Homo sapiens: one gene and its partners. The protein of the gene in region 1 interacts with the protein of each later gene in a pairwise test. Each region holds a gene or a part of one and is shown in the gene's direction. Other genes may lie near its edges.

Region 1 (5,035 bases):
CCCGTTCTGTCCTGGGCGCGGTGGCCACCACCCCTGCTTCTCTTGGCTGGCTTTGGCCTGTTGTCCCCGTTGTGTGTCAGGGGCTCCTGCCCGTGGATCCGGGCCTTCTCCCTGTGGCCTTCTCTGAGCTGCTGCTGCTGCAGGCTGGAGAGCAGGAACTTGAAGCCCTGGCTGGCTGTTCCTTCTCCCTCCTGCGAAGTGGGAGCTGCTGTGCTGGACTCTGCTGCTTTGGGGCTTCATGGGGAACATGACGCTGTCTGTCCTGCTGGTGGCAGCGTGACCTGTTGCAAACCTCAGCCTGTCCCACTCAGGACCCGGTGCCCGTAGGCCCCTTGGCCCACCTGCTTCCTGCTGTTCTACCAGTGGGAGCTGAGGGGTGCTGATCTGGGGATCCCCCTCGTCTGGGCCCCACCGTGTGCCTGGGCCCCCGTGTGCCTTGGAGCACCAGCCAACAAGCAGTGCCCACGGGGCTGTGGGTCAAAGGCCACCCAGACCTGAGGGGTGCAGAGGCTTGCTTGTCCAGGCCTCCCGCCCAGGCTGGGGGCCAGGTCCGCTGGGGCCCTGCCCTGCTTCCCTGCTCAGGGCTCTGCCCGTGGCTCTGCCCGTGGCTGTCATTCTCCCACCGTGCCCACTGATCCTGGGAGGCCCAGGAGGTGGTGCGATCCCTGTTTTTTGGTGCAGAAACTCGGGAGCCACAAAGGGGTGACCTGACACACTCATGGTCACCAGCCTGGGGCTCCCTGAGGAAGGTGAGCCAGTCTGGGTCTTTGCTGTAAACCACGTATGGTCACGTCCCTGTCTGTCCTGTCGAGAGGGGGAAGCATCCCAGACCACCTGGTGAACATGGGCGCCCTTCCTGGAGGCGTCCTCCCCTCCTCGGGCCTGTTTCTCGTGGGGCGGTGCAGCCCCGCACGTCCCGTGCTGTGGCTCTGACTGCTGGCCTTGTCCTGCAGGTGGCCTGTGAGTACGGCATGGTGCACGTGGTCTCCCAGGCCGGGGGCCCCGAAGGCAAAGACTACTGCATCCTCTACAACCCGCAGTGGGCCCATCTTCCGCACGACCTCAGCAAGGCAGTGAGTACCCGCTGGCCGGGCGCCGCTGCGGAGGAGAATGCGGGGGCCCCGGGGCTCTAGAGACACATCCGGCTGGGGTTGCAGGAAAGATCCAGAGGCGAGAGGCAGGCCCTGACCAGGTCTGGGGGACTCTTAGCTGGCCCCCAGTTCCCCTGGGCCTCCCCAACCCTGGTCATCAATGCAAGCTGTCCATGCGGCCTTGGGGTGCAGATCCAGAGGCACCGGCCGAGCTCCATGTGGTAGATAAGGGTCTCTACTGCTCCATGCCGGGGACCCTATCCAGTGGGCCCAGACAGAGGGGTCCTCAGAGGAGTAACAGCAGAGGGCACAGTGGGGCCCCAGGGACGAGACCTGTTCCTTTCACCGTCTTCCTGACTGGGGCACTAACACCTGCTGCTGGATGAGTCCCTCCCTCAGAGGCCCCACCTCCTTTCCCACTTAGTCCTCATGCCCCGCCTCCTTTCCCACCGCATCCCTCAGGCCCCGCCTCCTTTCCACTGCATCCTTCAGGCCCCGCCTCCTTTCCCACTGCATCCTTCAGGCCCCGCCTCCTTTCCCACTGCATCCTTCAGGCCCCGCCTCCTTTCCCACTGCATCCTTCAGGCCCCGCCTCATTTCCCACTGCATCCTTCAGGCCCCGCCTCCTTTCTCACTGCATCCTTCAGGCCCCGCCTTCTTTCCCACTGCATGCTTCAGGCCCCGCCTCCTTTCCCACTGCATGCTTCAGGCCCCGCCTCCTTTCTCATTGCATCCTTCAGGCCCCGCCTCCTTTCCCACTGCATCCCTCAGGCCCCGCCTCCTTTCTCACTTCATCCCTCAGGCCCTGCCTCCTTTTCCACTGCATCCCTCTGGCCCCGCCTCCTTTCCCACCACACCCCTCTGTCCCTGCCTCCTTTCCCACTGCATCCTTCAGGCCCCGCCTCCTTTCCCACCCCATCCCTCAGGCCCTGCCTCCTTTCCCACCGTATCCCTCAGGCCCTCTCTCCTTTCCCACCGCATCCCTCAGGCCCCGCCTCCTTTCCCACTGAGTCCCTCAGGCCCCGCCTCCTTTCCCACTGTGTCCCGCCCCCTCCTGGAGCCCTCGAGGTGTGCCGGCGAAGAGGCACTAGCATCTTCCTGTCAGCTTTATGCATAGTGTGTGCGTGTGAGCACGTGTGTAATCAGTATGTGCCTGGACATGCTCATGTGTCTGCATGTTTATGTGAGTTTGCATCAGTGTATGTGTGCATGTGCCTGAGTGTTTTTTTGTGTGTGAACACATAGGTGTGTGTCAACACATGTAATAGGTATGTGAACACATGTAATAGGTATGTGTGAAGACATGTGCCTGAGTGCATATTTCTGAGTTTGTGTGTGTGAGCACATGTGTACTAGATATGTGCATGGACATGTGTGCCTTAGTGCGTGTTTGTGTGTCAGCACACCTGTGTGTGTGAGCATGTGTGTAATAGGTGTGTGGGGGCATGTGCATGGGTCTGAATGTGTATGTCTGTTTTTATGTGCACATGTGCCTGTGAGTGTGCATGCAATAGTTTTGTGTATGGATGTGTGAGTGCATGTGTGTCTGTATGTGTGCAGGTGTGTGTAAGCATGTAGCTACATAATAGTTATGTTTGTGGATGTGTGCATGTGTCTGCACATGTGTGCGTGTGTACATGTGTAATAGGTCTGTGTGTATGTGTGTGTACATGTGGATAATAGGTTTGTGTGTGGATGTGTATGTGCCTGTGTGTTTGGGTTCGTGTGTGTGCATGAGTGTGTGTGAGTGCATGTGTAATAGGTATGTGCGTGTGAGTGTGTGAGTTCATGTGGCGTGTGTGTATGCATGTGTGTGTAATAGGTGTGTGTGCGTGAGCTTGAGTGCACAGGTATGTGCTTGTATATGCACACGTGTGCTGTGTGCTCTGGCCTGGCTGTGTGTGCGTGTGTGTGTGCATGTGTGTAATAGGCATGTGTCTGCTTGAGTGTGAGTGTGCATGTGTGTGCTTGCGTGTGCATATGTGTGCCATGTGGTCCGGCCTGGCTGTGTATGTGTGCACGTGTGTGTGCATGCACTCCAGCCTGGCTGTGGGTGTGTGTGTGTGTGCGCGCTGGCCTGGCTGCGGCTATGTGCGTGTGTGTGTGTGTGCACTCCAGCCTGGCTGTGGGTGTGTGCGTGTGCACTGGTCTGGCTGTGGGTGTGTGTGTGTGTGTGCATGTATGCATGTGTGTGCCGTGTGCTCCAGCCTGGCTGTGGACGTGTGCTTGTGTGTGCGCGTGTTCCGGCCTGGCTGTGGGTGTGTGTGTGCGTGTGCGTGTGTGTGTGCGTGTGTGTCTTGGCTTCAGGGGCTGTGAGGCCCCTGAGAGTTGGGGCTTTGTTCTCTGCACACTGGAAACCCTCCCCCTTCTCACAGATGCCTGGCCGTGGTGGGGCTGCGGTGGGGACCCACTTGGTCTTGCTGAGTGATCTGTGACGGCTCGCGGGGTGGCTCAGGTATCAGGGGACAGCCATGTCTGTGAGGACTCCGGCCCCGCTCAGATGAGGCAGCCCAGCCCGTCGCCCAGGGTCCGGCTGTGGGAGCTGCAGTAGGGATGGCTCTGCCTAGGTGGGCCGAGGCCGTGCGGGGCTTTAGGTGAGGGCTGGGATCTAACTCAGCGCAGGCTTCAGGTGGGAGAACGGGCAGCTGGGCCCTCCTGGTGACTCACATCACGTGAGACAACACTGTGCCCTGGCCTTTCCAGTCTTTCCTGCAGCTGCGCAACTGGACGGCCTCCCTGCTCTGCTCCGCAGCCGACCTCCCCGCCCGTGGCTTCAGCAACCAGATCCCGCTGGTGGCGCGGGGGAACTGCACCTTCTATGAGAAAGTGAGGCTGGCCCAGGGCAGCGGAGCACGCGGGCTGCTCATCGTCAGCAGGGAGAGGCTGGTACGGCCCTGTGCGTCCCCCGCTGGGCCAGCTCTCAGGGGCAGGAGGGGGGTGCAGGAGGCAGAGATGGCAGCAGCTGGGGCTGGTCTTCCGACTTCTCGCTAAAGGCAGATCCATCTGTGGGGAGGATCTGGGCCGAGTGTGAACATGGGGAGGATCCGGGCCGAGTGTGGCCGTGGGGAGGGCGGAGATGAGTCTGTTCTTCCTGAGCTGCTGGCTGGGGCTGTGGAACTTTGGCCGTGGTCTTGTTGGGTGCCTGTCCTAGAGCAGCCCCCAGGGGTGACGGAGACCACACTCTCTGTGGGGATGGGATTGGGGTGGCTTCTGAGGAGCAGGTGGCCTGGCCCTGAGCTGGTCCTTTCTGGGTACCCTGGTGCCCTTGCCCTCTAGCCGGTGGGGCCGTGCTCGCCTGTGGTCCTAGCCAGGTGGCCTGAAGCCTGGCCCCTTTTCCATCTTCTGTGAAATGGGGCTGTGGTTGAGAGCTGGGGGCCTGGCAGGGCTGGTCACAGCACAGGGACATGCCGACTGCTGGGCTGGGCAGGGTGCGTGGCCGCCCCTGAAGTGTAGTTTTGGAGTAAGAAGGAATGGAGTTCAGGAATTCCCTCACAGCTCTGCCTGTGGCTCTGGGCTGCCCCCGCCAGTGTTGCACCCTGAGCCTGGCAATCCACGGAGGCCTGGTGCAGGGGCTCAGGGCCGAGGGCAGAGCAGGCCGGGCAGAGCCGAGAGTGCCATCCCTGTCCGCACACGCTGCCGTCGTAGTTGAGAGAGGCCCTCAGTGGGTGCGGGGCTCAAGGCGGCTTAGTGGGCAGGCATGGGCTGTGACAAGTATCACTCAGGACTTGTATGTGCGGTTCGGGAGTCCCACGGCCGAGGGAGGGATTAGTGGCGCTTTTAGGCCTGGGGCCCTGTTGTCAGGTGAAGAAGGCTTGATGCCCTTCGGCCTCCCTGTTCTTGGGTCCTCCTGGGGGGCCGGAGGCTGTCAGCTGCAGAGGGGGAGCCAGCAGGCGCCCCCAGCCTGACCCGAGCCTCGAGTGAGGGTCCCAGGAGAGGAGGCGAAT
Region 2 (4,248 bases), on another chromosome or scaffold:
AAGGTTACTTAATTTCTCTGAACATATACTTTTTCATTATTGTGAGTATAAAACATTAAATTCATATTATAATGCCTGGCCCATGACAGGTACTCATAGATAGGAGCTGTTATTATCATTCTTATTCTCCTTGAATATTCATGGAGTGCAGTGGCACGATCTTGGCTCACTGCAACCTCTGCCTCCTCAGTTCAAGCAGTTCTCCTGCCTCGGCCTCCCAAGTAGCTGGGATTACAGGCACCTGACACCAGGCCCAGCTAACTTTTTTGTACTTTTAGTTGAGATGGGGTTTCACCATGTTGGCCAGGCTGGTCTCGAACTCCTGACCTCAAGTGATCTGCCTGCTGCAGCCTCCCAAAGTGCTGCGATTACAAGCATGAGCCACCGTGCCTGGCCTCATGGTCTTAAATTTAGAGCCACAGATATTGGAGCCTACTTTCCAACATAAACCCAAAGTAAGGGGGGTGGAATACCACCTTTATTTTATATTTTTTCAAAGAGATTTTTCAAATCATTACATTTCAAGCTTGTGGGAATTCAATGAAGTACATTGGACAGGGACTGTACTCCTTTTATGGAAAGGAATGACTTAATTGAGAAATACAACTAATTTGTATCAACTAGAATTAGAACACAGATCTCCTGATTTCTAATTATTCACTGTGACTATTTATCATAAGTAGCTTCCATTAAGTTTATATGCCATAGCATCTCTAACTGGTTTATCCATTAGCTTTTACTCCTTAACAAATCAGTCCAACACTTAGTGGCATAAAGCAGTATTTACAAACTCACTGAGTCTGCATGTTGACTGGGCAGTTCTTAATGGTTTTGTCTGAACTTAGCCATTCTTTACAAGGGCTCACTTATGTTCCTATGTTCAGTTGTGGGTTGACTGAGGGCTGGCTTTGCTGATCTTGGCTGGGCTCTCTCACATAGCCCAGATTCAAGGAGGCTTTTATAATCTACCACACTGGGCCTGCCTTCCCATCAGTTTGAATGTTGCAGTAAGACATTCTCTGAGCAAGTTACTACTTTGTGTTTGCCATTTATAAATGGAAGAGAAGGAAAGTGAAGCAAAACTGATCCAGCTTCTTTCTACAGGGCTTTTTTGATATCCCAGTAGACAATTTGTATGCAGAGCCGGCTGTCCTAAAGTGGATAAGGGAGAATATCTCTGAGTGGAGGAACTGCACTATTGTCTCACCTGATGCTGGTGGAGCTAAGAGGTATGGTTGAAATTAGTATTGTTCCCAATGTACTGGGAAAATCTTTCAGATGGTTGTGTCACAAAGTGAAGTTTTTCTATCCAAGTGGCAGTTTTTAAGTATTTTTGAATGGATGTAAGTAGCTAGCACATGGGTTGAATATAGTTTTACCCTTTCCTCTTTTACTGTCCTCAGTTACTACTCGGAAGACAAGACAGAAAAGGGGTCCTAAATCATCATATTATGGATTTGACTATAACTTATGAGTAACTTGGTGCTACAGAGCTAGCAATACAGCTATAAACCTTTTGGGAAGGGTAGAAAATGTGGTTTTCTAATGAATAGCAGCTGCTATTGAACCACATATTGGTGGACAAATTCGCTTTTACACTCCTCTTACAATGCTGTTGGTTAGATCATTTTGATCCTTGGGATTAAAATATTAAGCAGGAAGGAAAGTAAAGTGTGACATTTTTATTTAAAGCCAAGATCTTAACATTTTAAACAAACTGATTGCCAGGGATTGCCAGTTAACAGTGCTTTGCAGCTCACATGGTGCAGACTAAGAGCTCTTGATTTCCTTAGTGGATTACTCGTTAGTAATGCATTCAAAAGTGTGACACATGTTCTTCTTGTTGTGGAAATAGAATGAAGAGCTACAAAACACAGATGATTAGGAAGAGCTAATTCAGAACTTTCTAAAAGCCATTCAAATCTTCAATGACTGTTTCTCAACAACCTCTTTTATTTCAGTAACTTCAACAGAACTGATAAGCTGAGAACTTGAGTTATGTTATCCAGCCAGATATATGGGTTGGTGAGTCCCATGTAATTGCTAGTTACCATCTGTAATGCTAGAGACAGCCTAAGAAACATCCCCCCAACTAGTAGTTGTCATATTTAATTTGTCGGTCATTATTTTAATATCTTTCTGTGGGACTTAGAAAATAGTCACATTTGAAATAGGCAGGATTTTCTTTCCAAAGGTGGGTATAGGAAAACTGCCTTTAGTAGACAACTTATTGCTACCTGATTTTTTTTTCATTATCATTGTCTTATAGTGATGGAGTATTTTACAATTGAGTGTCTATCACTTCTGTGTTGGCAGGGTTTGGGGAGTAGGTAGAGATCCCTGTGTGATATTCATTTGTACAGTAGTTCTCTCCTCAAAAGGTGTAGAGAGTTACTTTTTCTAGCCCTTTTTATGCTTTGTTGGTCACTGAATTTGTTGGCCTTTGAGTATGGTTGGTTTGGGATACTTGAACTAATTGATCATGCATTTGCCTTGGGTAAGTAATCATTCCAAGCGAATTGGTTACCACTGATGTTATGTGCTTATGCAGTAGTAGTAATGGAGAGTACAGGGTATGGTTGGTTTAGATCAAGGTACAAATGTTACCTAGATTATGGTTCAAACCTTATTATGTGGTCACAGGTTCTCACTTATCCAGCAAAAACTCATGTGACCATAGTCACAAGAGAAACAGGACAAAATGCTATAGTTTGTTCAGTTCTACATTAAAAAACAGGACAAATCCCCAAGCACGGGCTGCTTCACACATGACGGAGATGGCACAGCGGAGCATGGACAGACGTGCCACTGGGGCAGCTCACTGTCATTTACACTGAATAGATTTTTGTTTGAATTATGTGGTACTTTGTCAAAAGACAAATTTGTCTTCTATCCTACCTTCTAGTCTGGTTTATTTTCTCTTGTAATAAGAAAAATAAGAATTCTCTTTGATTGGAAGATACTTTGGACCGAATGGTGAGATGCCTAGCTTGTCTGGGTAATTGATATAACTTTCTGTCTAGCAATTGTGAAAAAAACTCCCAAGCTTGGTGTCCAGGTACAGTTGACAGTGACAGTTGATGGATGTTTTGCCAACAGCACTGAGGGAAGTGATGAGGACACAGGCATTGGAACAGGCTGGATGCTGCTCCTCTCCTGCCAGTCAGGTTCTCTTCTCACCACATCCCCATTCACGGGTCTTCCATGATGGGAATTGGGACAGTCTGTGTACTCCTGGCATTAGTTAATTCTTTCCTCATTCCTTCTGCTGCCAATCCATTAAATAAACTTGCGTGTCTTAGCGTTATACTGCTTCCCAGTACTGGTGAGGGTGTCTGTCCTCTACCCAGAATGAATACTCATCTAAGTTTGATCAGTACGTTCATAAGCTTCTGTTGAGCTATGGAGGCACTGGTTTATAAAACCCAGTTTGTGATATTTGCCTTTGAGAAGTCAATGATAGTTGCTTTCATTCTTCCAGCCCTGGGAACTATTGGTTTCAAGGAGTATTCTCCTCCCCAAAACAAGCCCATTCTTTAGTCCATTTCTTTTTTTCTTTTTTTTTTGTTTTGAGACAGAGTCTCGCTCTGTCACCCAGGCTGGAGTGCAGTGGCGCGATCTCAGCTCACTGCAAGCTCCAGCTCCTGGGTTCACGCCATTTTCCTGCCTCAGCCTCCCGAGTAGCTGGGACTACAGGCGCCCGCCACCATGCCCAGCTAATTTTTTGTATTTTTAGTAAAGATGGGGTTTCACTGTGTTAGCCAGGATGGTCTCTATCTCCTGACCTTGTGATCCGCCCACCTCAGCCTCCCAAAGTGCTGGGATTACAGGCGTGAGCCACCGCCCCCGGCCTCTTTAGTCCATTTCTTTTGTCTTAGAAGCCACACATACATATGAACACGCTCTGTTTTGCAGAGTGACCTCCATTGCAGACAGGCTGAATGTGGACTTTGCCTTGATTCACAAAGAACGGAAGAAGGCCAATGAAGTGGACCGCATGGTGCTTGTGGGAGATGTGAAGGATCGGGTGGCCATCCTTGTGGATGACATGGCTGACACTTGTGGCACAATCTGCCATGCAGCTGACAAGTAAGTGTGGATTGATGGGGCTGGTAGTTAGAAGGAAAAAGCTAGCAATTGCTGTCTGAATGTCTTCAGCCTGCTGATTCCTTTTGGAACCAAATTGAGGGGATAAGTAACTTTGTGAGATTTTTATCACCCAAGGCTTAAATTATAATACATAGAAAT
Region 3 (5,035 bases), on another chromosome or scaffold:
TGAGCAGGGTCCTGTCCTGGGCTGGCGGGTCAGCAGCTGACATGCGGCTCCCTGCAGGGAACAGGTGGCAGTGCCAGGTCTCGGTAGGAGCCTTGAAGTGGCTTCCCCTCCCTGAGCGGCGGCTTCTGCCCGGAGCCCCCAAGAACATAGTCTGAGGCCACTTTGGCCAATAAAGTCTGGTAGGGCATCAACACTGGGGGCCAGCTCAGTGGCACTGCTGATGGGACCTGCACGGCTCCATGGGAGCAGAGAGACTGGTGGGGGTACCACCGCACGATGTCACAATGCCCTGTCTCCTGGGCTCTTGCTCCCACCCCACCCCCAACCCACAACCCCTGCCTCTGCCCATCAGCCTGGCCTTGGTAAGTGCTGCCCCAGCCTGGGGAAGGAATGAGCAGGGGAGCCTAGGGAGCGTCTTCATGGGCCCTGTGGCCTCCCATGGGCCCCGGTTCCTCGTTGGTGCCATTAGAACTTGTTGCTGGGACTGCGGGATTCGGGCCACATGCCCGCAAAGAACTCCATGTTCCACTTAGAGGCTGCAGAGTGCAGTGCCAGGGGTGCCTTCCCAAAAGTCCTCCCTGCCTGGGTGGAGCGTAGACAGCTCAGCACCCCACGGGGGGCGTTGGAGCCAGCCTTGGTTTTGTTGGGTAAGGATGTTAGAAGAGGGGCGAAGACCCATAGCCACTGGTGTGAAGGGTCTGCTCTTGACCGAAGGCTGCCTCCCTCTGGGTGCAGACCAGGCAGGTGGTCCCAGTCACGGTGCCCTGGGGCCACTGGGTCTGTCTGCCCTCAGGCTCCACTAGACACACCTGCGGAGGCAGCAGACTAGCAGCGGTGTCTGTGAGGGGCAGCTGCACAGCCCCCTCTTGAGGGTGCTCCTAGGCGTTGGTTAGGCCCAGGCGTTTCTGCTTTTGGGGAGCAGAGCCTGGAGTCGGGCATGGCTGGGGAGGAAGCTATCGCAGGCTGAGCGCGGGCTGGGGTGCTGACCTGCATCCCAAGAGCAGATTTGCCCCTGGCCTTCTGGGCCTGTCCTTTCTGTAACACCACACTGGACACCTGGGAGCAGAGCGTGCCCCCGGCAGGATCCCACATGGCTGCTGGAGCACTGGGGCAGCAGGTGACTGAGGTCGCCCAGAGCTTGAGGGAACACCTCATCCAGGGAGGAGGCTGAGGCTCCCAGGCCACAGTAGCAAGTGGGGAGTGGAGCCTCACAACCTGCCTCCCACCAAGATGGTCCCTCTTAACATTACACAGAAGCAAAACCTTAGAGGGGGCCCTGATGTCCTGGGACTGTGAGAGCCCCATGATTCCCCTTTAGCTTGGATGGACCCAAAGGTATGGACTCCAGCTGGGAGGCGGGGGCAGCTGATAGAGAGCCTAGAGCCGTCTCAGTGCTCCAGGCGCTTGGCCCCTCCTTTCTACACAGTGGTCACCAGCATCCTCCCTGGCGTCTCCTTCATGAGTGGGCACTCCACCCTCTGCCCGGCCACCTGGCCCCCTCCTGGGGAGGACAGTCAGGCCCACAAAGAAGCTCCCTCTTTTTTTTTCTTTTCCCCTGCTCTGTTGTCCAGGCTGGAGTGCAGTGGCGCCATCTCGGTTCACTGCAAGCTCCGCCTCCCGGCTTCACGCCATTCTCCTGCCTCAGCCTCCCTAGGAGCTGGGACTACAGGCGCCTGCCACCACGCCCGGCTAATTTTTATTTTTATTTTTAGTAGAGACAGGGTTTCAACGTGTTAGCCAGGATGGTCTCAGTCTCCAGACCCTGTGATCCGCCCGCCTCGGCCTCCCAAAGTGTTGGGATTACAGGTGTGAGCCACCGTGCCTGGCCGAGGCTCCTTCTTTTGTAAGAACTTTGAGGGTGCTCTGGGTGTGGCAGTGGTGTGGCCAGGACAGCCACAGAGACCGTTCTGTAGAATGGGAACACCAGCCACCATGGTGGGGTGGCCAGGCCTGGCCTGTGGAAAAATGCAGGGAAAGCTAGTTAGCCAGTTAAAGCTTATTTCAGATAAATGACGAAAAATTTTTAGTGTAAGTATGTCTCAGATACTTCATGGGCCATACATTCACTAACAAAATTATATATTGTTCATGTATTGGGAGGCACTTGGCCTCCCAGAGTACTGAGATTACAGGCATGAGCCACTGCGCCCGGCCTGTTTTCTCTTCACAACAAAACGTCCCCACATGGGCTTGACTTCGAAGTCCTCGAATGTCATCTCATGGAAGCCCCACTGGGGAGCATCCTCAGCCCCTGCCCAGGGAGGGCAGCCACGGGGAGGGCGGGCACGGGGAGGGTGGGCACGGGGCTGCGGCCACCCGCTGTGTTGCAACTCTGCCCTCTGCTTGCTTTTTATCGCTGTGTCCGGAAGATGAGGAGCGGGAAGGCCTCCTGCACCCTGGAGACCGTGTGGGAAGACAAGCACAAGTATGAGGAGGCCGAGCGGCGCTTCTACGAACACGAGGCCACACAGGCGGCCGCCTCCGCCCAGCAGCTGCCAGCCGAGGGGCCAGCCATGAATGGGCCCGGCCAGGACGACCCTGAGGACGCTGATGAGGCGGAAGCCCCTGACGGCGGCAGCAGGCGTGATCCCAGGAAGAGCCAGGACAGCAGGAAGCCCCTGCAGAAAAAGAGGAAGCGCTCCCCCAAGAGCGGGCTCGGCCCCGCGGACCTGGCCCTCCTGGGCCTCTCGGCCGAACGCGTGTGGCTGGACAAGTCACTTTTCGACCAGGCAGAGAGCTCCTACCGCCAGAAGCTGGCAGATGTGGCTGCCCAGGCAGCCTGGCCTCCTGCCTTGGCCCCTTGGGGTCTCTGCACCCATGGAAACCAGGTGGCCTGCCACCACGTGACCTGGGGGATCTGGGTCAACAAGTCCTCCTTCGACCAGGCTGAGCGGGCCTTCGTGGAGTGGTCTCAGGCCCTGTTGCTGGCCCCCGACGGCAGCCGCAGGCAGGGGACTCCCAACACAGGCCAGCAGGTGGCCGTCCCCGACCTGGCCCACCAGCCCAGCCCACCGGTCAATGGCCAGCCCCCGCTGGGCAGCCTGCAGGCACTGGTTCGGGAGGTGTGGCTGGAGAAGCCCCGGTATGATGCAGCCGAGAGGGGCTTCTACGAGGCCCTGTTTGACGGCCATCCCCCAGGGAAGGTGCGCCTGCAAGAGCGAGCCGGCCTGGCCGAGGGTGCCCGGCGGGGCCGCAGAGACCGGCGGGGCCGCAACATCTTAGGGAACAAGCGGGCCGGGCTGCGACGGGCCGATGGGGAGGCCCCCTCTGCCTTGCCCTACTGTTACTTCCTGCAGAAGGATGCAGAGGCCCCCTGGCTCAGCAAGCCTGCCTACGACAGCGCCGAGTGCCGCCACCACGCTGCCGAGGCCCTGCGGGTGGCCTGGTGCCTCGAAGCTGCCTCCCTGTCTCACCGACCCGGTCCTCGGTCTGGCCTGTCCGTGTCCAGCCTGAGACCCAAGTAGGAGAAACGTGCTGGGTGGGCACCCAGCCTGGGCTGTGGGCACAGGGACAGCCATCCCAGGCTGGGGCTCCTCCAGCTTCCTCCCCTGCCCACCTGGGGTGGGGGCTCCCCGAGACCCGTGGGCCCAGCAGAGTTGAATGCAGGAGCAGGCTGAGTAAAGGTGGTGCTGCGCTTGTGGGTTCCAGGGACACTGCTTGAGGTTACAAAGTTCCAGGCTGCCTGGATGAGGGCAGGGAAGGGCTCAGCACAGGGCAGAATCTCTGCCTTGCCCAGGGTCCCTCTTTGGCTGGGAAGCTCCCCAAGTCCCCTGTGGCTGTCACATGCCAGGGCTGAGAAGATAAGGCTACTTATAGGGGCGGGAAGCATTGAAGCTGGTTTCTGGCCCTAGCGCTCCCCTGCGATGAGATGTGGGAGCCAGTGTGTCCCTGCCTGTCCATCCTGTGCACCCCCAGCTTTCCTTGTCACCTGAAACCACCTCTGAGGGAAGGTGGTGGCGTCTCAGATGCATGGGCATGTGGCTGGTCAGGTGGCCTCCATCCCAGGGTGCCCCGTCTGTGTGACCTCCCTCTGGGTGCTGTGGGCTTGCTCCAGGGTGCAGGTGCAACCCCAGCAGCGGTCTCTGGGGCCAGGCAGGTGGGTGGACGATTGGACTTGGAGGGGAATACAGAGGGCATGGAAGTGGCGAGGCTGGCCTGTTGGCGAGGGTGTCCTGGTGGTGGGGCGGGCTGAGTCAGGGAAGGACTCTGAAGGTCCCAAGCAGCTGCTGAGGCCCCCAAGGAAGTGGTTCCAACCTTGGACCCCTAGGGGTCTGGATTTGCTGGTTAACAAGATAACCTGAGGGCAGGACCCCATAGGGGAATGCTACCTCCTGCCCTTCCACCTGCCCTGGTGTTCACGGTGGCCTGGTCCCTCCTTGCCGAGAGAGTGTCCTGGGTCAGGGACGCAGAGGACGCTCACAGACTCCAGCCCTTTGTTACCGAGAGGACACTTGGCAAGGTCCAGCGATGGTCCGGAGTCCACACACAGACTGGCGGCAGGGCAGGAGGGGGACAGTTCTGTTGTGCTTGGTTGGACAGTAAGAGGGTCTTGGCCAGTCCAGGGTGGGGGGCGGCAAACTCCATAAAGAACCAGAGGGTCTGGGCCCCGGCCACAGAGTCATCTGCCCAGCTCCTCTGCTGCTGGCCAGTGGGAGTGGCACGAGGTGGGGCTTTGTGCCAGTAAAACCACAGGCTGGATTTGCCTGCGGGCCATGGTCCCTGTCTAGGGCAGCAATTCTCAACCTTCTTGCTCTCAGGACCCCAAAGAGCTTTCATTGTATCTATTGATTTTTACCACATTAGCAATTAAAACTGAGAAATGGGCCGGGCACGGTGGCTCACGCCTGTAATCCCAGCACTTTGGGAGGCCGAGGCGGGTGGATCACCTGAGATCAGGAGTTCAAGACCAGCCTGGCCAACATGGTGAAACCTTGTCTACTAAAAATACAAAAAATTAGCCAGGCACAGTGGTGTGCACTGGTAGTCCCAGTTACTCGGGAGGCTGAGGCAGGAAAATCGCTTGAACCCAGGAGGC
Region 4 (5,035 bases), on another chromosome or scaffold:
AAATATAAATTTTATTGTATTCATTTACATATTAAAAAATAGACTCAGAGGCGGAAAAACTTCCTTGAAATTGTTTGTCATTTGTTCTACAGTTACTTACTGAAGTCATTACTATTTACCAAGCATCATGCTAGGTGCTAGGCTTACAAGAGTGAACAAGGAGACAGGGTTCCTGTCATTATAGAGCTTAATCTACTGGGGAAGATTGAGTGGGAAAGATTGACTTAAATAAAACAGTAAGTTCAGAAAGTTAGGAAGTGTTGGAGTCTATATTTAAACTTAGGTATTTTGACCCAAAAGCCTGTACTGTTTCTAACATACCATGCTGATGCTCTAGCCTCCATTTTATATGCTTAAACTTATTATGGGGCTTTTAAATAGAATATGTATTATCCTTGCCAGGGCAAAATATAAAGAAATAATTGACTGCCTGCTATATCTGTCTTCACCTTTCTATCCCTATTATCTGTTTTTTTATTCCTCTTTTTTGTCTCCCTTGTTTCTTACCCTGACTTATGTATGAAGATCTCTAGTATTTCTTTACTATTGTGAGGATGACCAGCGGAGAGGTAATATTATAGCAGTTGCCTAGTACTTCTTCCCTAGAGCACTGAAGTTCTAAATATGAAAGAGTGGATAAGTAAATATATCTTTTTTATCACTTTCATTTTGTTTCATTTTTTAGACTTTAAATATTAACACAATGACAGCCTCATTTGAAGCTAGCAGCAAATATTTGGAAGGAGGGAACCTTTAATACATCAAGATTAAAGTTAACTTTAAATTATAAATGAGTCATTTTAATATGTGGGAGTGAGAATCTTAAAACATAATGAAAACCTCCAAAAGAAAAGTGAATTAGGAAATACATGCCTGCTTACCTGTCTTTCACACCCCAATTTTAGAAGAAAAATACTTGGGATGGATTGAGTAGGGGGCAAGAGAGAAAAAAATATATTACAGTAAATATCACTGAAAAATGTTCAATTTGTGGAAATGAATACAAATAAAATTTTATCAATCAACTTTTTTTTTTTTTTAAAGAGACAGGATCTCACCATGTTGCCCAGGCTGGAGCACAGTGGCTATTGACAGGCTCGATCAGGCACACTTCAGCCTAGAACTCCTGGGCTCAAGGGATCCTCCTGCTTCAGCCTCATGAGTAGCTGGGACTATAGATGTGCACTAGTGAGCCCAGCTCAACAGTTAGTTTTAAAGGCATAGAAATGTTTTTATGTTCAGAGAAAAGTATCAGCGCTGATACAGGGCCGTGGTAGCTAAAAGTCAATTAAATTTGAAATGTAACTAGTACACAGCTTTGCAGACCATTGAATAGACTACCAAATCAAGCACCTTTGCAGTAAAACCTTTGTAGAGACTTGAAATTATTTGAATTTTTTCCATGTCACAAAATTATACCAACTTGTAGTTGATTAGACCACAAAATATAGGTATGCTTATGTTGGTTGAATTTATGTATTTGATTTGCCCTGCAATTTTCTTATGAACTCTTACAATTTTTTTTTTTTTTTTGAGATGGAGTCTTGCTCTGTTGCCCAGGCTGGAGTGCAGTGGTGCTATCTCGGCTCATTGCAACCTCCGCCTCCCGGGTTCAAGCGATTCTCCTGCCTCAGCTTCCCAAGTAGCTGGGATTACAGGCATGCACCACCATGCCTGGCTAATTTTTGTATTTTTAGTAGAAACAGGGTTGCATCCTGCTGGCCAGGCTAGTCTCAAACTCCCAACCTCAGGCGATCCGCCCACCTTGGCCTCCCACAGTGCTGGGATTACAGGCATGAGCCACCGCGCCCGGCCTTAAAATGTTTTTAGCGAAGCTCTGTTAGTTGGTTTTGAACTCTGGATATTCCTGCCGTAAAAGTAAATATGCTATTGTGTTAGAATCAACTATTTTTCCTATTTCTTTACAAAAATGGATGACAGTCATTATTAGGGAGAATGGATGGTTTCTAATTTCCTAAGCAAAATGAAGTTTTTGTTTACTGTAAAAGTTGTCTTATCCTTGTTTTTTCTAATATCTATAGTCTTTTCCTTACTTATTTCTTCCTCTTTGCCTTTAACCATATACGGGTCTTCTGCATTTCCTTGTATCCCCCAAACCCTTTCATCTTTTGCTATAATGATCTGTGTTACCCACCAAGCAAGGTGGCACCTTCCTGTAGTCCCAGTTACTCGGGAGATGGAGGCAGGACAATCCCTTGAGGCTAGGAGTTCAAGGTTGCAGTGCATAACAACTATGCCTGTAAATAGCCACTGCACTTTAGTCTGGACAACATAGCAAGACCCCATCTCTAAAATAAATAAATAAATAAATAAATAATGATCAGTGCTACCATTTTTTGAAAATGTACAATCACTTATTCCTCAAATTTAACTTCTGTCCTACCACAGAGGCATTTAATCACCAAATTCAGTAATTTTTTTTCCTTTCAATTCTTACTCATCTGTTTTTTTAAAAATAACATTTAATGTAGACCTCTTCCTTTATTAGTCTCTGATACTATGGTTACTTGGATAGCTTTCCCCCAAGGTAATAGCTTTTCTTCTTCCACTTCACTACTGCCACCTACACCAGCACCACCCTACTCCTGCCCTTCAGTCAACAAATTTCAAGTCAGAATTCAATTAACATGTCCCTACTGTATGTAAGACATATGTGGTACTATAGATATAAAAAAAAATGAAGAATATATCATTATGAGACTGACTACTTGGATGAGGAAGATAACTATAATATGAGGCTGACCACTTATGAGAAAGAGATTCTGGCTGGGCATAGTGGCTCACACCTGTAATCATAGCACTTTAGGAGGCCCAGGTGGGAGAATCACTTGAGCCCAGGAGTTTGAGACCAACCTGGGCAATATAGTGAGACCCTCTCTCTACAAAAATAGAAAGAAAGAGGGAAGAAGGAAAGAGAAAGAAATCCCAAGTATGGAAACATTACATCAAATTTTAGGGGTACAGGAGTATGCCAACTAGTAAGCAATTATCTTAGCTCCAGACCCACCTTTCTATGCTCTGCTTTGTGACTGGACCTAGTACTCTGCAAGCCACATGTTTCTTTGCTAGCTGACTCTCCATTAGACTCTGTTGCCATATGGGGCTATCGTGGGAGATTGCATGGATGGAGGAAGAGAAAGGGTTTTCTCTTACTTTCTCTTGTCTTTCAGTTCCTTTGAACAACCCAGCAACACTTCTTCACCCTGGTTGCATCAGTTTTCCTGTAGCAGAGACTGAACGCGGTTTGCATTTTCTCTAATACACCACCAGCCTGAACCCGCACCCCATCCCCCCACTCTGGCAGTGTGGATCCCAACCCTTGGGGCCCTCCTCCAAGCGCAGATATATTAGTACTAGCTTATCTATGCCCATTCTTCCGAGGCCTGAGTTTCAGTTCCATGAAGTGGTTTCTTAAGCTTCTAAATTTTAAAAATTCCAGCATTTTCCTTTATTCCCTCAGTTTTAGGGTTGGTGGCTGCTTCCTGTAGCTGCTACTTTCATGACATCTTCATGTTCTCTTCCTGCCTTTTCAGCTCCCTAATAACAACTTTATACTTGTTTAACAATTCTTCGTATTAAATTTTTTCCATTCCAGTAACTCATGTGACATCTATCTCTTGATTATACACTGACTGATGCCAGGAGGAGAAAATAGTATTTCAGTTTGACTTGAAGGAAGGGTAGAATTTCAGTAAGTGGCAGGAAATTTCACATAGGATGAGTGTCAGCATGAGTAAAGGTAGCAAAGATGAGGAAGTATGGTGTATATTTGGGAAACATTTTGTGTTCTAGGCTTTTTTGAAGCACAAAGTACATGTTACAAAAAAAGACTATAGAGAGGTTGGGGTAGACACTAATTTGGAAGACCTTGAACTCTAGGCTAGGAAATTTGGATTTGATTGATAACAAATGATTTTTTTTAAAAAAATGAAATAGTGACCTGATTAGAATTTATATCTAGAAATGTTTGGATAATAAAGTCATGACAGATTATTCAGAAGAGTGAGGATTGTACATGGTAAAATCTTAAATGTTACTGGTTATGCTGGGCATCACTGTTTTCCTGTAGCATGTTCATTCAGAAAATACTGAGGGCCTTTATGTTAGGAATGCAACAAAGAATATGGAAACAATCTCTATTCTCAAGTGTGGTGGAAAAAAAGGATATAAACTTAGATAATTCTAGAACAAAGTGGATGGATATGGGAATGCATAGGGAATTATGGTATATTAAATAGAGCATAAAATATGGCTTGGAAAGGTCAAGAAAGACTAGCTGATTTGCATTTCAGATGATGACTAGGAATTAGCTATGCATAAAGGGGAGGGTCTGAGTTGGACTTAAAGAACAATTCCAAGAACAGACAGAGAAGGAGAAAAGGATTGTTTTGGCAGAGTCTAATGGGAAATTGTAAGACCTTTTTAAGAACAGGTTCATTTTTTCCCTTCTTGGTGTGGTTTTTCTGCAAACAGATGAAATTAAATTGTGAAGGAGCCTTAGCTGTTTCATAGGTAATTAATAATGTATGCATCCTGGTTTCTTAAATCCTGTGGTTGTTTTTAATAGAGGATATATCAGATGAATGGATTTTAAGTAGTATCTTTTTACTAGTGTGTATACGGGAAGGATATGTATATTTGTATGTGTGTATATGCAAATGTGTGTACTTACAGAGAGGGAATGAGGGACACAGAGAGATAGGCATATAGTAGGTTAGGGAATTGTAATAGAAACTCAGAAAGAAATAATGGGGTAGCTACTGCATACATGTACAGTACTTCTTTCCTATGAGGTAGAGGTACTATACTAGAGAACTTTTAAACCATATAAATAAATTTTAGATTGAAAAATGTTTGTATCAAAGTTGTAATATGAGGGTACAGAAGAGTCAAGTGAAATGAAAGGAAAAGAAGAGGGAAAGAGCCAGAGGGAATATTGTGGGTTTTTCACAATATTGGTTCCACTTTTTCAACTTCTTCAGTTGAATCAAAGGTCATAAATTACGTGAAATAA
Region 5 (5,035 bases), on another chromosome or scaffold:
GGAAACTTCCCTCTCTCCTACCTCCCCCAATAATTTTCGTATGTCTTCATGGGAAATGGCAGGTTGTCAGAGATAATATTCATGCTCTTACTCAGTAGCATACATAACGTGCTTTCAGACTTCCAAAAACCAGACTGAAAAGAGGCTTGGTCCTGTTGGGCAGTTCCGACAGAAAGTGGCAGTACATCCAGGAAAAGGGGGATGCTGAAGTGATCATACTTAAGCTAGACCTGGGAATTCAAGCAGCACAAGCGTAAAAAGAATGAAGAATGTCCAGAAATGGCAAATCCATAGAGACAAAGATTAGTGGTTCCCAGGGACTGAGGGGTGACAGAATGGGGAGTGACAGGACTAAGAGGTATAAGGTATCTTTTGGGGATGATGAAAATATTCTAAAAGTAGATTATAATTATTGCACAACTCTGTAAGTATACTAAAAACCACTGAATTGTATACTTTAAGCAGGTGAAAGAATGGAAAGTGGCAGAGTTGGGCTGGAGACCTGGGGTATAAATTATAGCCCCGGAGGCACAGAAAGATGATAGTAGTGTGCATTGGGATGCACACAGTATGGGAAAGAATACCAGTGACCCAACATGGGCCCTCAGCTTACCTAGACCTCAGTTTTCCCACTTGTAAGGTGAATAGAGTTACACTAGAGTCAATCTTTTGTTCCACTAATATACCAGAATCCATCTTTTTTTTTTCAGTCAACATCTATGTACCAGGCAAGATGCTAAGGTTACAAGAGGCAATATGTACTTCTTTTGATTAACTTGTTCTAACGGTGAAACAGACATGTAAATAAATTGTAAATTACAAGTACATAAATATCATTTGGTTTCGTAACATGAATATTTTCCTATTTCATTAAATATTCCTCAAACTTTTTTTTTTTTTAAGACAGAGTTTCACTCTTGTTGTCCAGGCTGGAGTGCAATGGTGCAATCTCGGCTCACTGCCTCAGGTGATCCACCCACCTCGGCTTCCCAAAGTGCTGGGATTACAGGCGTGAGCCTCTGCACCCGGCCACTTTTTTTTTTTTTTTTTTTTTTTTTGAGATGGAGTCTCGCTCTGTTGCCCAGGCTGGAGTGCAGTGGTGCAGTCTTGACTCTCTGCAACCTCCGCCTCCTGGGTTTAAACCATTCTCCTGCCTCAGCCTCCAGAGTAGCTGGGATTACAGGTGTGCGCCACCATGCTTAGCTAATTTTGTATTTTTAGTAGAGACAGGATTTCTTTTTTTTTTGTATTTTTAGTAGGTATGGGGTTTCTCCATGTTGGTCAGGTTTGTCTTGAACTCCGACCTCAGGTGATCCGCCCGCCTCGGCCTCCCAAAGTGCTGGAATTACAGGCATGAGCCACCGCGCCTGGCCACTTGTAACTTTCAATGGCTATTTTAATAGTCTCATTAATACGCTATATCAAACCATTCCAATCATGGGCATTTGGTTTTGTTGCTTTTTCACCATCTTAAATAGTAGTGATGCACATTCTTATTTGTAAAATCTTTATCCAAAGAGGGAAGTCATAACCAAAGACCAAGTACATGAATAACTTACAAATTAGAAATTCAGAGGCTGGCACGGTGCCTCACGCCTGTAATCCTAGGACTTTGAGAGGCCAAGGCAGGTGGATTGCTTGAGTTCAGGAGTTTGAGATCAGCCTGGGCAACAAAGTGAGACCCCCATATCTACCAAAACAAAAAACAAAAAAATTAGCCAGGCACAGTGGCATCCACCTACTGAGTAGTAATTGCAGCTACTCGGGAGGCTGAGGTGGAAGGATCACTTGAACCTAGGAGTTGGAGGGTGCAGTAAGCTATGATTGCAACACTGAACTCTAGCCTGGGTGACAGAGCAAGACCATGTCTCTTTTAAAAAAAAAAATTCATCCGTAAATGTTTAGATAAATACAGAAGAGGAAGAATTATTATGTCCATCTGGCAAGACCTCTCAGAGATAGAATTTGAACTTAGCCTTGAAGGAGATAGGCAGGCAAGATGAGTAAGATTTGGACATAATAAGATGAAAGTTGAGGCAAGATCAGGGTGTAGGAAGATTTGTCAAAATGGATGCTGAAGCGCTTTTGCAAAACAGCCAGGGAATAGATGAAAAGGAAACTTGTTAGCTAAGTGTTAAATCATTGCGTGGGAGAGTCTCAGCGAATATTTCAGACTTGAAAACTGAAGTTTATTGAGAGATGACTGAACAACAATGTTGGAGGAGAGAGTAGAAGATAATGACCATGCTAAGATACCTTTTCTCTCATATGTTGAGAATAGTTGGAAAAAGAATAGTTCCTGTTACAGAAGTTTGCAGAGAAAAAGTTGTTTTAAATTAAATCTGGTTTCATTTTGAATGAGATGGTAAAAGAAGATTGGAAAAGCTAGAGGAAGAAGAATAATTTTGGCTGTTTTCACAGATGGAATGTGGGCTTTATCGGGTATTTGATGCTCTCCAACTTTTCTCTAGTTCTGAAAGGCCTTTGCCTCTAGGAGCAACAGTAGTGACATGGCTTTAATGAGCTCAGAACTCTCACACCTTCCCTCCCCATAATTTCTGCTGCTTTCTTGGCCTCTACTTTCTTTCCTTTTTTTTTTTTTTTGAGACGGAGTCTCACTCTGTTTCCCAGGCTGGAGTGCAGTGGTGCAATCTCGGCTCACTGCTACCTCCATCTCCCGGGTTCAAGCAGTTCTCTGCCTCAGCCTCCCGAATAGCTGGAATTACAGGCGCCCGCCACCACACCCGGCTAATTTTTTGTATTTTTAATAGAGACGGGGTTTCATTGTGTTAGCCAGGATGGTCTCCATCTCCTGACCTCGTGATCCACTGCCTTGGCCTCACAAAGTGCTGGGATTACAGGCCTGAGCCACCGTGCCTGGCCTTTTTTTTTTTTTTTTTTTTTGAGATGGAGTCTCACTCTGTCACCCAGGCTGCAGTGCAGTGGTGCAATCCCAGCTCACTGCAACCTCCGCCTCCCAGGTTCAAGTGATTCTCCTGCCTCAGCCTCCCGAGTAGCTGGGACTAGAGGCACCCGCCACCACACCCAGCTAATTTTGTATTTTTAGTAGAGATGGGGTTTCACCATGTTAGCCAGGCTGGTCTCAAACTTCTGACCTCAGTTGATCTGCCCACCTTGGCTTCCCAAAGTGCTGGGATTACAGGCGTGAGCCATCACGCCCAGCCTCGTTTCTTTCCTGTTGAGATTATTTTCTTATTCTTGCCATGTCCCCTCTCTTGAAAGTCTTAGTTAGGCCATTAGTAAATGGCTGTACAGCCTTGGTGTATTCATTTGCTATTCCTGGCATAACATATTACCACACAGGCTGGGCACAGTGGCTCACACTTGTAATCTCAGCACTTTGGGAGGCCAAGGCGGGCGGATCACGAGGACAAGAGATTGAGACAATCCTGGCCAACATGGTGAAACCCCGTCTCTACTAAAAATACAAAAAAAAAAAATTAGCTGGGCATGGTGGCGCACACCTGTAGTCCCAGCTACCTAGGAGGCTGAGGCAGGAGAATCGCTTGAACCCGGGAGGCAGAGGTGGCAGTGAGCCAAGATTGCGTCACTGCACTCCAGCCTGGAAACAGAGTGAGACTCCATCTCAAAAAAAAAAACCAAAAAAACAAATTACCACACATTTTGTGGCTTAAACCACATACATTTATTATTTACCATGTGTAGGTCATAAATCAAACACTGGTCACTGGGCTAGCAATCTTCACACCTTGGCCAGCAGTCTTCACACCTTGGCCTTCTGAAGTATTAGGATTACAGGCATGAGTCACTGCTCCTGGCCTGGGCTCCAATCAGGGTTTCAGCAGGACTGCCTTCCTTTCTGGAGGCTCTAGGAGAGGGTCTAGTTCCTCGAATATTGGGTTGTTGGCAGAATTCAGTTTCTCGTGGTTGTAGGACTGAGATCTCTGTTTTGTTGCTGGCTGTGAGCTGAGAGTTGTTCCCAGCTTCTAAAGGTCACTTACATCCCTTGGTTCATGGCTCCCTTCTTCCACTTTCAAAGCCAACAATGGCAGATTGCATCCCCTTCACACTTGGAATCTCTTTTTCTTCTTCCATTTCATCTCTGACCCCCTTCCTATGCCTTTCTCACCTACATTTGTGGACTATGATTAGATTGGGCCCAAATGGACAATCCAAGACAAACTCTAGGATCTCAAGGTTCTTAACCTTAATCATACCTGCAAAGCCCTGTTTCCTCATGTATAATCCATATTCACAGGATCCAGGGATTAGAGAAAGGACTTTTTTTTGAGACAGAGTTTTGCTGTTTGACCCAGGCTGGAGTGAAGTGGCGAGATCTTGGCTCACTGCAACCTTTGCCCCCCCCGGTTCAAGTGATTTTCCTGCCTCAGCCTCTTAAGTAGCTGGGATTACAGGCATGTGCCATCATGCCTGGCTAATTTTTGTATTTTTAGTAAGAGACAGGGTTTCATGATGTTGGCCAGGCTGGTCCCGAACTCTTGACCTCAGGTGATCCACCCGCCTAGTCCTCCCAAAGTGCTAGGATTACAGGCATGAGCCACCGTGCCCTGCAGGAAAGGACGTTTTTGTGGGGCCGTTATTCTCTACTTGCAACACTTGATAGGAAGTTCAGCAGATCCACTCTAAGCAACTGTGCTATGAGTGGATCTTAGCACTGTATCCATTTCCATTTGTATTCTGTGTATTATTCCTCTTTTTCATTGTAGGTGTTGTGTGTGTCTGTGTCTGTGTTTGGAGTGACATTAATCCTGAACACCAGTCTCTTTTTCTCAGATATGTCTTGTCGTTCAAGACTTGCAACACTAAACGAGAAATTGACAGCCCTTGAACGGAGAATAGAGTACATTGAAGCTCGGGTGAGTTTGATGGGCAAGGGCATTCCAGAGAGAATGCACATTTCCACTTATTGCTGAAAAAAACCTGAAAGCAGAAACAGTCTTAGGAAACTTAAGCACTGGCCGGACATGGTGGCTCACGCCTGTAATCCCAGCACTTTGGGAGGCCAAGACAGGTGGATCACTTGAGGTCAGGA
Region 6 (5,035 bases), on another chromosome or scaffold:
CCCCACGAAAGTGACCTAATTTAAACTCCATTCACTACCTTGCTTTTACCTTTTTTTAATGAAGTTAGCACATTTTAAAAGTGGGCAGCTCAGTTACAAAGTGAGCACATACATATAGCTCCTACCCAGGTAAGGAAATCAGATACCACTAGCACTAGCTAAGACACTAGCAAAGTCTCTGTCCTCAGTCATTCCCCCTCCTTTGAGAAAACCACATCCTGATTTCTAACTCCATCAATTCATTTGGCCTGCTTTAAAGTTGTCATAAATGGCATATGTATTCTGCTGTCTAGATTCTGTTAGTATTTTGAGGTTCATCCATGTTATGGTGTATGGTTAGTTCATACTTTTCAGCTTTGTATAGGTTTTCTACCTTATTCTTCACTCTTCATATCTTTGAGATGTTTCTGTATCATTACACAAACTATAGTTTTCTATCTACTTTTTAATACTGCAGAGATATTAGTTCTTAGCACGTGTTGCACATGGCCTCCTCTTTTACTAATTTGTAATTACTGTTACTCTGCTAACATTTTCCTTTATTTCAACATGGTTTTTCATAATTTATATCAACTGTTTAATTTTATTTGTCATAATTTATTAAAATACTTTCCTTAGAGGAATTTATGGAATAAACACAAATATGAAGTAATACTCATCCCCCCGTGTTCCCAATGAGAAGATTCAAGACATATTCTAGTTAAGCTGACTAGATAAGTTTAGGGGGGAATATGGATTATTTTATCAGTTTTCCCGTAGATATCACCTTCTGAGTTGAGAGTTAACATTCTGAATTGTATTTGCTAGCATGAGAAACTTTACCCCAAACCACAAATACTATTTACATACTATAAGAACAGTTGATTTTGTCTTTTACGTGTATCTGATGTCCATAACCTAACCATTTATTGTATTTCAGATGGTTTTTAAAAGGGCCTTATTTGCAGTGATACCAAGAATTTATGATTGTGAGGTCATACCCCCTGAAATAATGATCAAATCTTTGTTGCTTTTACAGCTGATTCTGTCAGATCATTTAAGATTAATGTGTCAAAAAAAGATGAATGTGTCTTCTGCAAACTGCTTTGTTGTTCAAAATAAATTGAGCTAATTATTAATATCACAGATAACAAGTAGCTTTTGAAACAATTTCTTGAATGATAAATTCAATAACTCAATTCTGGACTAAAGGAAATCATCAAGTCTTAAGTTCAGCAGAGCAACTTCTACCATCCCTCATTTCTATACTTACTGGGTTCAGTGTACTATTTAAATCTGTTACTAAAGTAGTTAACAAGTAGAAAAATACAGAGAGAAATTGTTCTCTGACTAGAGAAATAAGTGGCAAAGAGCACAAACTGGATGGTAATGTAAATGCTGCAGGTTATTACGGTAACTAGTCATTACTATACTAATCAACATTTCTAAAAGTCTTACTGGCATACATATTGAGAGAAGAAACAATTATTTTCTATTTATGTTTTGAAAGCCTTCCACAATAAAATAAGAATTCCAGTGGAAACTACTTGCCAGTTACTAGCTGGAATTTAAAATAACCTAACTGGGATGTTTACTTTGAAAATCTAGCTTATATGTGTTACAGTTGTATGTATGAAAAAACGTTCACAATCTTTGTCTTCCCCATCCCCCATCCCAGAAGATTAATTTGATACATGTTGGTTGGGAAGATGTAAAAATACAACTTTTTTCTTTTAGTTTGGATGCTCTTCCAAGAGTCACATGTCCAAACCATCCAGATGCGATTTTAGTGGAGGACTACAGAGCCGGTGATATGATCTGTCCTGAATGTGGCTTGGTTGTAGGTGAGTTGTTATTATGGTTTTAATTTAAATTACTGTTCAGGAGGCCAAGCATGGTGGCTCACGCCTGTAATTCCAGCACTTCGGGAGGCCAAGGTGGGAGGATCACCTGAGGTCAGGAGTTCGAGACCAGCCTGACCAACATGAAGAAACCCCATCTCTACTGAAAATACAAAAACTAGCCGGGCGTAGTGGTGGGCACCTGTAATCCCAACTGCCCAGGAGGCTGAGGTAGGAGAATGGCTTGAACCCAGGAGGCGGAGGTTGCAGTGAGCCGAGATCGTGCCACTGCACTCTAGCCCGAGCAACAGAGCAAGACTCCGTCTCAAAAAAAAAATAATAATAATAATAATGTTTAGGGTCCTTCACTTTTGCATAGTTTCCAAACTATCATTTAATGAACACATTTTTGACTTTCTTCCCCAACAAATAATTTATTGCAAAAAAACAATTAGGAAACAGAAACGAGTAAACTTATTCAGAGATATATTTTATTGTATATCCAAATGTATATTTTTATAATGTGGGGTGGGAGCTAATCCAGAAGAAACGAAAAGGCCCCAGTAATTTCATAAGTCCTTAGTCTGAAATATTTGGTAGAGGACTGGAGAGATGGGCTGACACTCATGCATATTAAATAATGAATACATGTAATCAAACTTTTGTGGCTTTTTTATACATTGGGAAGTAGATAAACATGATTTTTGAGTCCCACTTAAAGCCTTTTAGTCAAAAAGAAGATTTATTATAACTTTTATACAGTCATCTATTGATGAATATCTTGTATAAAATTATTGCCAAAAATAACACTTAAAGTTTCACCTTGTTCCTACTTGCACACTAATCTAGATATGCAGCAGAACTTTAGACTACAGATAGTCTGTTCAAAAATTATTCTTGTGGTGGAGTTGTAGCATCTGAGAATAGGGGTAATATTTAGCAGTTTGAATTACTTAAGAATGAAAATTCTAGAAGGATTGTGGGCAGTATAACAGAAGCATTAGTAGTGGCATACTGTGGACTTGACTTACTTGGTCCAAGAAGGCTGCTTGCCTCAGACCTATAGTGGGAGTTTTAAAGTATAGAGTTGCTAATAGGAATTGAGAATCATTTGCAACCGTATTCTGCTGAGTAAGGAATATTAATAGCTAATATGTTTACTATATACTAGGCACTATTCTAAATGATTTACATATTCACTCAGTTTATCCTCACAACAAACCTGTGAGGTGAGTACTACCATTATCTTCATTTTACAGATAAGGAAACTGACGTTTAGGTAGTCTAGAAGACTGGCTCCATTGTCTGCGTGGGAGGCAGATTTCTATCTTGTATTGCCTTTCATAATAATAAAATTTTAATCTGGGGTCGTCAAAGTACAACCTATATATGGCCTATTTGTTAATTCTGGCTTTTACATTTTTAAATGGTTAAAAAAAATCAAAAATAATATTTTAGGACATGTGAAAATACAAATTTCAGTATCTATAAAGTTTTTCTTCGTTTGTTTTTTGAGACGGAGTTTTGCTCTTGTTGCCCAGGCTGGAGTGCAATGGCGTGATCTCGGTTCACCACAACCTCCGCCTCCCGGGTTCAAGTGATTCTCCTGCCTCAGCCTCCCAAGTAGCTGGGATTACAGGCATGTGCCACCATGCCCAGCTAATTTTGTATTTTTTTTAGTAGAGACGGTGTTTCTCCACATTGGTCAGGCTGGTCTCGAACTCCTGACCTCAGGTGATACGATCGCCTTGGCCTCCCAAAGTGCTGGGATTACAGGCGTGAGCCACTGCGCCTGGCCAAAGTTTTTTTTTTGATACAGAGTTTCGCTCTTGTTGCCCTTTTGTTGCCCAGGCTGGAGTGCCGTGGTGCGATCCCAGCTCACTGCAACCTCTGCCTTCCAGTTTCAAGTGATTCTCCTGCCTCAGCCTCCCGAATAGCTGGGATTACAGGGGCCCACTACTACACCTGGCTAACTTGTTGTATTTTTAGTAGAGACAGGGTTTCAGCATGTTGGCCAGGCTGGTCTTGAACTCCTGACCTCAGGTGATCCACCAGCCTCAGCCTCCCAAAGTGCTGGGATTACAGGTGTAAGCCACCATACCTGGCCTGGTATCTATAAAGTTTTAATGGAATATAGCAACACTCACTTGTTTACATAGTGTATATGACTCTTTTCACATTACAACAGCAGAGCTTAGTAGCTTCAACAGAAACCACATGTGCAGCTCTCATCACTTTTTTTCTGCTGCTCAGCATACTAATTGCAGTGATGCAGTTATAACAGCAACATGTTGATCGCCACATATGTTGCCATACTGCACTATTTTATTTATTTGTTTTTATTACCATTACATATCCATCACACCAAAACAAGAAAAGTTAACTTTGAATGTCATGCTTTTAAGGCATGGTGGAGTATGGATTATTTTGTCACTGAATTAGATGGCAAAACATTGTGTTTATTACACAATGATACTGTAGCTGTGTTAAAAGAATACAGTAAGCGTGGACATTACCATACTGAGCACTCATCAGAATATTTCTAACTCAGGAAAACAATGGTCAGAAAATAATGTAAAATAGAATATCTTAACACAACAGAATTTTTTCACAAAAATAAAAGAATGAAACTGAGGCTGCAACTAAAGTTTCTAAGTGGCTTATTTCTTGGCCAAGCAAGGAAAGCCATTTACCAATGATAGGTTAATTCATATTTGATTGCAACAGCTGAAGAAATGTATGCAGAGAAAATAAATTTATTTAAGACTGTTAGCATCTCACCAAGAACAGTTGCTTGAAGAGTTGAGGACAGTGGAGCAACATCAGTAGTCAATTAAAAGTTAAGGCAAATTAGCTCAGGTATATTTTTCCTTGGCTCTTGATGACTAGATCAATGTTATTGCTGCTTTGCAGTTGTTTATTCAAGAAGTCAGTGTTGGGCGAGGTGCAGCGGCTTACGCCTGTAATCCCAGCACTTTCGGAGGCTGAGGCGGATGGATCATGAGTTCAGGAGTTCAAAACCAGCCTGGCCAAGATGGTGAAACTCCATCTCTACTAAAAATACAAAAATTAGCCGGGCGTGGTGGTGGGCATCTGTAATCCCAGCTTACTCGGGAGGCTGAGGCAGAGAATTGTTTGAACCTGGGAGGCGGAGTTTGCAGTGAGCCGAGATTGCACCACTGCACTCCAGCCTAAGTGACAGAGTGAGACTCTGT

Evidence for each region.
Region 2: the proteins of SPPL2B (region 1) and PRPS1 interact in binary tests that used the Homo sapiens proteins (3 or more experiments, as listed by UniProt).
Region 3: the proteins of SPPL2B (region 1) and EEF1D interact in binary tests that used the Homo sapiens proteins (3 or more experiments, as listed by UniProt).
Region 4: the proteins of SPPL2B (region 1) and DR1 interact in binary tests that used the Homo sapiens proteins (3 or more experiments, as listed by UniProt).
Region 5: the proteins of SPPL2B (region 1) and BRK1 interact in binary tests that used the Homo sapiens proteins (3 or more experiments, as listed by UniProt).
Region 6: the proteins of SPPL2B (region 1) and GTF2B interact in binary tests that used the Homo sapiens proteins (3 or more experiments, as listed by UniProt).

Annotation. Positions count from the first base shown.
Region 1 is NC_000019.10:2,333,649-2,338,683, forward strand, and holds part of SPPL2B (signal peptide peptidase-like 2B isoform 2 precursor), read left to right. Parts: intron 1-953; coding exon 954-1,073; intron 1,074-3,794; coding exon 3,795-3,977; intron 3,978-3,983; exon of another isoform or gene 3,984-5,035. UniProt on the Homo sapiens protein: Intramembrane-cleaving aspartic protease (I-CLiP) that cleaves type II membrane signal peptides in the hydrophobic plane of the membrane. Functions in ITM2B and TNF processing.
Region 2 is NC_000023.11:107,641,262-107,645,509, forward strand, and holds part of PRPS1 (ribose-phosphate pyrophosphokinase 1), read left to right. Parts: intron 1-1,104; coding exon 1,105-1,229; intron 1,230-3,915; coding exon 3,916-4,089; intron 4,090-4,248. UniProt on the Homo sapiens protein: Catalyzes the synthesis of phosphoribosylpyrophosphate (PRPP) that is essential for nucleotide synthesis.
Region 3 is NC_000008.11:143,587,416-143,592,450, reverse strand, and holds part of EEF1D (elongation factor 1-delta), read left to right. Parts: exon of another isoform or gene 1-239; coding exon of another isoform or gene 240-362; exon of another isoform or gene 363-1,843; intron 1,844-2,369; coding exon 2,370-3,460; intron 3,461-5,035.
Region 4 is NC_000001.11:93,355,207-93,360,241, forward strand, and holds part of DR1 (protein Dr1), read left to right. Parts: intron 1-5,035. UniProt on the Homo sapiens protein: The association of the DR1/DRAP1 heterodimer with TBP results in a functional repression of both activated and basal transcription of class II genes.
Region 5 is NC_000003.12:10,120,850-10,125,884, forward strand, and holds part of BRK1 (protein BRICK1), read left to right. Parts: intron 1-4,776; coding exon 4,777-4,859; intron 4,860-5,035. UniProt on the Homo sapiens protein: Involved in regulation of actin and microtubule organization. Part of a WAVE complex that activates the Arp2/3 complex. As component of the WAVE1 complex, required for BDNF-NTRK2 endocytic trafficking and signaling from early endosomes.
Region 6 is NC_000001.11:88,884,049-88,889,083, reverse strand, and holds part of GTF2B (transcription initiation factor IIB), read left to right. Parts: intron 1-1,716; coding exon 1,717-1,823; intron 1,824-5,035. UniProt on the Homo sapiens protein: General transcription factor that plays a role in transcription initiation by RNA polymerase II (Pol II). Involved in the pre-initiation complex (PIC) formation and Pol II recruitment at promoter DNA.